2 separate regions of the Homo sapiens genome follow, and region 2 is linked to region 1. The links come from fine-mapping of genetic effects on gene expression. A gene starts in region 1. The other region holds a variant in brackets. All regions are shown on one strand. Distances are between the middles of the regions.

What was found. PIP is the estimated chance that this variant, and not a neighbour inherited with it, causes the effect. A credible set is the group of variants that fine-mapping cannot tell apart.
Region 2: its variant is the best candidate, but not a certain one, in a credible set for the expression of SH3BP2 in whole blood (TOPMed, PIP 0.61).

The regions. Positions count from the first base shown.
Region 1 is chr4:2,790,487-2,794,859 of GRCh38, forward strand. SH3BP2 (SH3 domain binding protein 2) reads left to right here and starts at 2,599. Exons shown (of 13, transcript NM_001122681.2): 1 at 2,599-2,652. RefSeq lists a silencer at 2,317-2,666.
Region 2 is chr4:2,833,668-2,838,040 of GRCh38, forward strand. It overlaps SH3BP2 (SH3 domain binding protein 2), which reads left to right. Exons shown (of 13, transcript NM_001122681.2): 13 at 30-4,373. The coding sequence ends at 167. Among named protein-coding and RNA genes, the nearest start is that of ADD1, 8.0 kb to the right of the region's middle. RefSeq lists enhancers at 1,482-1,561, 1,822-1,871, 3,537-4,373. The variant G/C (reference allele first, on the strand shown) is at 2,369.

The DNA of each region.
Region 1 (4,373 bases):
CTGGTAAGGGGGGAGAAGGGGAGGAATATGAGGTGTGGGATTCTCCCCACGGTGGAGGCTGCACCCTGTTCCCCCTGTTTGGCTGAGGTGCCCTGCACAGAGGTGCTTTGCATTTCTGGGTGATCATTCTCTAGGCGCCTGGTCCGTCCACACTGTCTGCAGTGACCCTGCTCCGTCAACTCTGAGCTTGGCATCTGAGGCCAGCCCTGTACACCCTGCCCTGTAGTCAGGCCCTGGCGGGGCCGCACCGACGTTTGGCTTTGCTCCACTCCCCTCCCGGTCTCTGCCCCTTTCCCCAGCTGGTCCCCTGGGAACAGGACACTTGCTGTGACCCAATGGCATCTGCTCATTTGTCCATTTGCTCCTCTCGTGAGCCACAAGGGTAGGGACTTCCTTGTATCATCTTGGGTCCCCGGGGTCTGGTGTGGGGCCAGGCATTTATTTAGCTGAACTGGACATCAGGGACATCAAGATGTACAGCCCCAAGGTCATGAGTGTTTTGTCAGGAGCCTTAGACCAGTCTGGCCCAGCCTGGAGCTCCCTCCGCATGTGGCCTCTTACAGGAGTGACGCAGCCCCATGCGGTGCTAACAGTGGCAGCACTGAACGTCGGATGGGGCTGAGCCCAGCCACTTCCACAATGGCTGTAGTTCCTATCTCTTCCTCCCTGCTAGGAAAATGTGAAATAGCCCAGAGTGGGGGGTGGGCAGAAGAGTTGCAGGCTACCCAATGCTGGGATGAGCAGAGTTGAGACCTGGGGAGCCAGGCCCAGGACACTTACAGGTGGGGATGTGAGCAGGCACCCCAGAGAGTGAGCACCCCAGCCAGCCAGCACCCATCTACTCCCTCACTGGGGTCTAAGTTCAGCCCCGAGAGCTAGGCTGTAGGTGGGTAGAGTCACAGCCCCAGCGCCGGTGTGAGGGGTGGCCCTGGGCCAGGTAGAGTGAGTATCTGCCTGCTGTCATGCCCCATCCACTTCTGCCGCCTCCCCAGTAGAGGACCCCCTCCATTTCACAGATGGGGAAAAGGGGCCCTGTTGTCTGAAGACTCTCCCATATCCTCCCCTGCCTCTGCCATCCCCTGCTTTGTCCCTTCCCTTCCAGAGGCCCTGCCTTGGTCCTGGTCACTTCCTGGTAGGCACTGGCTCTTCCTCTATGCCTGGGCTCAGGGCCTGGCCACCTAGTTTTCTGACTCCTCCCACTTACTCCCCTCCCCAGTTAACCTCTCTGATCCCAAGTGTGTCTCTCCAGCAGGGAGGAGGGCTATTGCAGCCAGGGATCCCCTTTCTGAGGCTTGGGACCCATTATTGGGCAGCTCTGGGACAGGTGGACGGTGACTTGGCCCACACTCGGTCCAGCTGCAACCCTGAGAACCCGCTTGGTTTGGCTGTGTCTCCTGGAGGCCCTCAGGTATTTCAACCTGTAGGACCCAAACCCAGTCCTTCACCTGCTGCAGGGCCAGCCCTGGACACCCCTGCCCCTGCCTGATTTGGAGCAGCCAATTCAGCCCCTGTCATTGGACTCTGGCCTCTTGTGCTCAGTACAGAGGGTCAGACCTTGGCCGCCTGCCTGGACAGGGCCAGGTCACCACCACCCACCCCCAGCTCCCTTGGGTTCCCAGCAAGATCCTGTCCTTCCTCTACTCACAGCTTCCTGGGCTCTGGGACCTGGGGTCCAGTCCCCACTCCTCATGGGGAGGAGTCCCCCCACGCCCCAAGCAGTTGACTCCCGCACTGGTGGGGGGTCCGCTCGCCCTCAAGCTCTGCAGGCCCAGCTTGGTCTCCCCAGCCTCTTCACTTTCTCCACGGCTCCCTCCACCTACCTGGCCCTGAGAGCTCCCCAGGGAAGCCATTTCCTCCCAGGAAGCCCCTCCTCTTCTCGCCCCTGCCCTTACACCAAGGCATCTGGGCCTACTCTTAGGGAGAGGGTGATGGTGGAGGAAAGGGAGCCTCAGAGGAGGCCAAGTGTAAAGCACCCGGTCTCCTGTGCCTCCCAGCCCCAAGACGACCTCTGGGCCACCGGAGTCCAGACCTGGTCCAAGAGGCGAGGTCCCCCTGGGAAGTGCCTGAAAAGTACCCTGGAGGACATTTGGAAACAAAGACAAGGTTTCCTGGTGCCCAGCAAGCCCTCCCCCACCTCCCCTGCTCCTGTCTTGGCCAGGGCCTAAGTCGCACTCACGGGGCAGGGGTGGGGCCGCCCAGGATCAGGACCACGGGGCTGGGGGGGTGGACAGCGCCCTTTCCACCTGGGTCGCTGGGCACTGGGGTGTCACTGGGAGGGACACGCAGGAGGGACAGACACGCTACCTCACTCACGGGCGAGAACTAAGCACCTACTGTGGACCCGGCGTCTAGGCCCGCGACAACGCCAGTCTTCGCCCCCCAGGGGCCTCGTCCCGGGGCCGCGGAGGCCACGTGCAGTTCCCCGCCCACCCTGAGGTACCGGCCCCGCCCCACGCCCAGCTCGGACCTCCAGGATTGCGGGACCCGCCGGGGAGGGGCGGGGCCGGGGCGGGGCCAGGAGGAGGGCGGACTGGGCGGGCGCGGGCGGGACGGAGCTGCGGCGGCGGCGGGTCCCGCGGGCGGGAGCGCCTGGCGGCCGAGTCAAGCCGCCGCCTCGACCCAGGGCCCGCGGGCCAGGAGAGCGCTCGGCGGGTAAGCCTCGGCGGCGGGTCTCGGCGGGTCTCGGGGGTCTCGCGGGGGGGCGGTCTCCGCGTCTGGAAGGGGCTCGGCGGGCCTTGGCGGTCTGGGGGCTCTCGGCGGGTCTCGGGGGTCTCGGGGGAGTCTCGGGGTCCCGACAGGTCTCGGCGGGTCTCGGGGGTCTCGGGGGAGTCTCCGGGGAGTCTCAGGGGTCCCGGCAGGTCTTGGCAGGTCTCGGGGGAGTCTCAGGGTCCCGGCAGGTATGGGCGGGTGTCGGGGGTCTCGGGTGCGCAGCAGCCTCCCCCGGGCCCCGGGGCCTCCGTGTCCTTGCCAAAGGACGCACGGGGCCTGGGCACGGCGGGCAGTGCCCGAGGGAGCGCGGCTTCGGGGCGGGGGCCGGGTGTCCCTTGCCGGGGGCTCAGGGGTGGGAGGCGGTGCGACGCGTCTGTTTCGCACCCCTCGCGCCCCTCTGGCCCCGCGGCGGGGCCCCTTTACGCGACCCTCCCCACAAGACTCAAAGGCTGCGGCGGGCACTCGCTCTCCGCCCTTCCCGGAATCCAAACTTCCCTCTGCAGCGGCCGCGCTTCACGGAGGGCAAGAAAAGCCGCCCACTGGCGCTGATTCACACTGAAGTGTGAGTGACTGATAGCCGGGCGTCTGAGACTCTCATGGGCAACAGGGAATCTCAGGGGTGGCAGAGGGACTGGAGGAGTTAGGGGGCGGGGACAGCCCCTTCCACCTGTACGCTGGCCTCCCTGCAGCCCAGCACTTTCCCGCTGCTCTGGGCCTCGGCTCCCTGGGGGTATTGAGGGCCTGAGCCCTGCTGTGGGGAGCCTTCTGCTGGTGCTCCTTTCCGTGAGCACCTCCTATCCCCTCTCTGTGCCTCAGTTTGCTCATCTGTTGACACTGGGGACAGCTGTGCCTCCTGGTCTAGTGGCCACACTTAAGTCCTTCGAATTGGCTGTGGCCAGGGGCGGGTACTCCGTGTGGGCTGCTGGGGTGGACAGCCTGCCTGGATGACATGTGTGTGGCCTTGCAGGTGACATGGGCCGGTGATGCAATGTGTAGAATTGTTTCCACAACCGCCTGAAGGCAGGGCCCACAGCCTCCTCCTTGCCGAAGCAAGCCTCTGGGTTCAGGTCAGCCCTGCACCAACTCCATGAGCCTGGACAAGCTCCTGCCCTCACTGGCTCAGGCCCTGTGGGACCAGAGGAGGGGCTGGGCTCCACCCCCTCCTGGTTCTTCCCACTCTGTCCACTGTCTCCTCTACGTAGACACCGTCGAAGGGCCCTCTTGGAGCCCAACCTCAGGGCCCCACTCCAGGCACTCCACTCCTGGCAGGACAGGAGGCCTGGGACGAGGGCTGCAAGGGAGTGAGGATTCTGTCTATCCCCTCTCCCTGCCACCCGCCAGGCTCCCTTTGCCTGGCTCTGTGCCCTGCGTTAGGCACACCCTGGAGGGGGCAGGCAGAAGGAAGACAGATAGGCAGCCGTGTCTAGGAACTGCCAGCCAGGGCCATCTGGTGAGAGGGGTGCTGACAGGGGACCTGGCCTTTCAGGGAGTCCCCAGGCCTCCAGGATCATGGGGGAGCCCACCAAGGAGGCTGGCCTGAAGAGGCAGACAGAGGGAGGACAGGCTCTGGGCCTGCCTTGGCCCTTTCTGCCCACATGGACAGAGGAAGCAGGGTGCTGAGTCAGCTGGAGCTCCCCACCCCCCAGGGATGCACGCACACAAGC
Region 2 (4,373 bases), 43 kb after region 1:
CTGACGCTCCCCCTTCTCTTCCCCCACAGGACTCTAAGTTCTACCTGGAGGGCGAGGTCCTGTTTGTGAGTGTGGGCAGCATGGTGGAGCACTACCACACCCACGTGCTGCCCAGCCACCAGAGCCTGCTGCTGCGGCACCCCTACGGCTACACTGGGCCTAGGTGATGGCAGTCCATGTGGCTGCCAGGCCAAGGCAGTCACAGGGGCCCTGACCCCAGGCCACACAGACGGACATGGGCCCACATGGGAGGGTGAGCAGGAGCAAGGCTGTGCTTGCCTAGGGCCTCTGTGATGGACATCTCGTAGGACCCAGCCAGTCTCATCCAGCAGGTTGGGTTCTAGGGCTGAACCAGGCGCCAGGCTCCAGAGGACGAAGGGACTCTGTTGCCCCACACTAACTTGCCCTGTCCCAATCCCAGAAACCCAGGACCAAGCTGTGCCTGGGCTCCAAGGACAGGAACACTGGTCCCCCCATCACACTCACCCCTAAGTGGGCTGGGAGCCAGGCAGGGCCAGGGCAGCTGGGTGGGGGCCGGGGCTGGCCCTGGGACCCCCAGGAACGCTAAGACACAGGCTCCAGTAGGGGCTGTTGCCTCCAATAAAGCAGCAGTGAGCTTTGCCTTGGTGGCTGGGGCTTGATTGGGAAGGAGGGGATTACCAGCTTACTGGGTGCCCATGCTGATGTCTAAGTGGTGACCGCAGCAGTACCCGGGAACCCCAACAGTTGGTTGTCTTGTCTTCCAGGGTGCAGGTCACTGAGTGACTTCCCCAGGGTGCACAGCGAGTAACAGATCAGGACCCAAACTTGGGCAGTCTGGGCTGGGAGCCCACACCCCACTCACCAGTTCTGCTGCCTCAGGTCAGGCCAGGGCAGTGCTGCTGCAGAGCTAGAAGGCCCTGCAGCTACAGCTGCTTCATTCCCTGCATTAGTGCCTGGTTACTGGGTACCTCCTGAGTGGCTGTCCCCGTTCCAGAACTTGCATACACTGAGCGGGCTACAGAGCTAGAAGGCCCTGCAGCTACAGCTGCTTCATTCCCTGCATTAGCGAGCAGTTATTGGGTACCTCCTGCATGCCTGGTCCCATTCCAGACAGGGGCCTCTGGCCTGGCTGAGTTCACAGCCCAGTCTGGGGACAGCTGGGTATGAGGTGCTTACGGCACAGTGTCCAGGGCAGCTGGGTGTGCAGGGACTGGGGGCTCCCGGAAGATTTTTTGGAGGAAGTAACAGCTACGATGGGATGGGAACAGTGGACCCTAAGCAGGCCAAGGGTGCGTAGGGACGGTGGTACCCAGATGCCCAAGTCTTCCAGGCAATACCTGGCTCAGGCCCAGCCCCAATCCATCCCCTTACTTTCTGCCATGGAGTTCCAGCAGGTCACTCTCCCTGGCACACCTTCCAGGCTGGATTTTTAATGAAACAGACTCAGGGAGGTAGGGGCTGGCAGGGACCCTAGAATCCTTGTGATTTTTCTTAGCACCTTATGTCAGGGAAACCTAAACTGAGGTCAGCACTTGGGCCCACTGACAGTGACTGACTGGGGGAGAAGGTCCTGCAGCCCCCTTCCCCTGGGTGTGTTCTGGGGACCTGTGGTTTGCTGGCGGAAACAAGTGATGAGGCTGGTTAGCGGATGTGGGAGGCTGTGACCCCAGGGGGCCATAGGGTGCGGTGGAACTGCAGGCCCTGCAGATGACGGCAGCCAGCTGCTTCCAGGAACCAGGTGTCCAAGGCCACCTCTGCAGGGGTTTCCTCTTCAGCCTGCCTGGGGTGAGAGGTCAGTGCACCACAGCCGAGGCTGGAGCACAGGGAGCTTCTGTTGTTCTGATCTATCTCTGGAAAACCAGCCATTCCTCCTCCCTGCAGTCAGAATTCTTTGCCCTGTCTGACCTGAACTTGCTTAGGGAGTCATGCCACTCCCCACTGTGGCCATAGTTTCTCTTCCTGTAAAATTTTATTATTTTAGTTTTTTGTTTTTGAGATGTAGTCTCACCCTGTCGCCCAGGCTGGAGTGCAATGCCGTGATCTCCGCTCACTGCCACCTCCGCCTCTCTAGTTCAAGCGATTTTCCTGCCTCAGCCTCCCGAGTAGCTGGGATTCCAGGCGCCCGCCACCACGCCTGGCTAATTTTTTGTATTTTTAGTAGAGACGGGATTTTATCATGTTGGCCAGGCTGGTCTCGAACTCCTGACCTCAGGTGATCTGCCCACCTTGGCCTCCCAAAGTGCTGGGATTACAGGCATGAGCCACTGTGCCTGGCCCCTTCCTGTAAAATTTTTAAATGGAGAATTGGGTGCGAGATGTGGTTTCCAGCCTGGTGCCTGGGGTGCTGAGCTAGTGAGTGGTGCAGTCCAGGACACCTTTGCTTTAT[G/C]TCACTTACACGGTCACCTGGAGCCGGCTCAAGTGGCTAAAGCATCCTGGGGCCCAGAGCCAGGTGATAGGTCCCTCTGGCCAACTGGACAGTTGAGGCCTGTGGTTACCCGAAGCCCAGCTGGGGCCCTGGTCCAGCCTCGCCTCCCAGACTCTGCACCTGCTAGCACAGCTGTCCACGTCTGTGTGAGCTGCTCTAGGCCGAGGGCCTCAGTTTCAAGAGTGTGTTGGGGTGGGATGGGGCAGGCCGTGGTCCTCCAGCATGAAGAAGGAGCCATGAGGAGTTCCCATGACCTCCCGAGACTTGCCATAAGTGTTCTAGTCCACATATAAGGGTAGGGTTGGGATTACCATTTACTGACCACATCTGTGAGGTGCCGAGCTGGGTGCTTGACATCATTTGCTTGGAGAAGCAGCTGCTAGTAGACCCATTTTACAGGTGAGAGAACCAAGTCTCACAGAGGCCTGGGTTCAAGTCCCACCTCTGCCACTAACTGGCATGTGACCCTATCTATCCTTCACTGCTCTGAGCCTAGACCCTGGCCCCTGCCTGGCTCCCTGCCAGGCTCCCTGCCACCCCTCACGACCTCTGATGGTCGTTGTGGGGGTCTCTTGCCTGGCTCCCAGGGCTAGGGTTAGGGCTCTGGAGGTGCTTTCACTCAACCAAGGGGGCCACAGCACTGGGGAGTGAAACTGCCCCGCCTCACCCTGCGTTGCCCTCTGGGTCTGTGAGGGTGGGCTGGCAGGAGGCCTAGGCCTTGCCCTAGGGGCAGTCCTGCTTCCTCATTTTATAGATAGGGAAACTGAGGCTTTGGGAGGACTCACTGACATACCTACCTTCAAGATGAGTTCAGGTGGGCTCAGTTCTGGGGCTTGGGAAAAGGGCCCCAGTGGCTTTGGGAAGCACCCCCAGCCCAGGGTGAAACATGCTTCTTCTCTTCCTGTGGTTCCATCCGAAGGATTGTGGTGAGCCCCGTGCCTTCAGTTAATAAAGATTTGTATTGTGAAAAGATTTTTTCTTTTTTTTTTGGGACACAGTCTCACTCTGTCGCCCAGGCTAGAGTGGATTGGCGTGATCTCGGCTCAATGCAAATCTCCAGGGTTCAATCGATTCTCCTGCCTCACCCTCCCATGTAGCTGGGATTACAGCTGCCTGCCAAATTTTTGTATTTTTAGTGGAACCGGGGTTTCACCATGTTGGCCAGGCTGGTCTTGAACTCCTGACCTCAACTGATCCGCCCACCTTGGCCTCCCAAGTGCTGGGATTACAGGCGCGAGCCACGGCGCCCAGCCTTGAAAAGATGTTTTTAGAACCAGAAGAAACCTCGGTTCCCACTGATCCTTCTGGGCCACGTTGTGCGGAGCTCCCCTGCTGGTTGGGGCTCAGCGCAGCCCCAGGGAGGTGCTTCCTGCACCTCAGGATGGGCGAGGGTGGGCATTGGGGGAGAGGGGGACCTGGGACCTGCGGCTTAGTTCCCTGAGGCAGGCAGGGCTTATTGGGGCCATTTCATAGAAAGGCAGATTGAAGCTCAGCAGGGAAGAGGCTTTTGAGGGTGATCCAGGCGCTGGAGGGATGGCCTAGGACACCAGGGTCACACCAGGAACATGGGAGGGCCGTGCTTGTCTCTAGACGAGGGGAATGGGGGAAGGGCCACAACCTCTGTTTCTGTGACCCAGCAGCATCAAGCCCCTCGCTGGGCACCTCGCACACACCCCCTGCCTTATCTCTGCCTGCACGCCCTGTTCCCTCCACCTAGACTGCCTGCTGAGGGGGCAGTGCCAGGAGGTTGCCTGTCCTTGGGGAAGAGGGGCAGTGACCCTGTGAAGATGCTTGACAGACAACCCCCACCACCTCAGAAGTGTGTGTGAGTGGTGAACCCTTTTAAGCCATCTTCCAGCCATTCTCACTGGAGGGAGATTTGATGGGTACAGAGCAGACCCCTACCTGTCTACCCTCCTTCGGACCCCTAGGAAGCTTCGCAGGCCTTCCAGGCTGCCAGACAGCT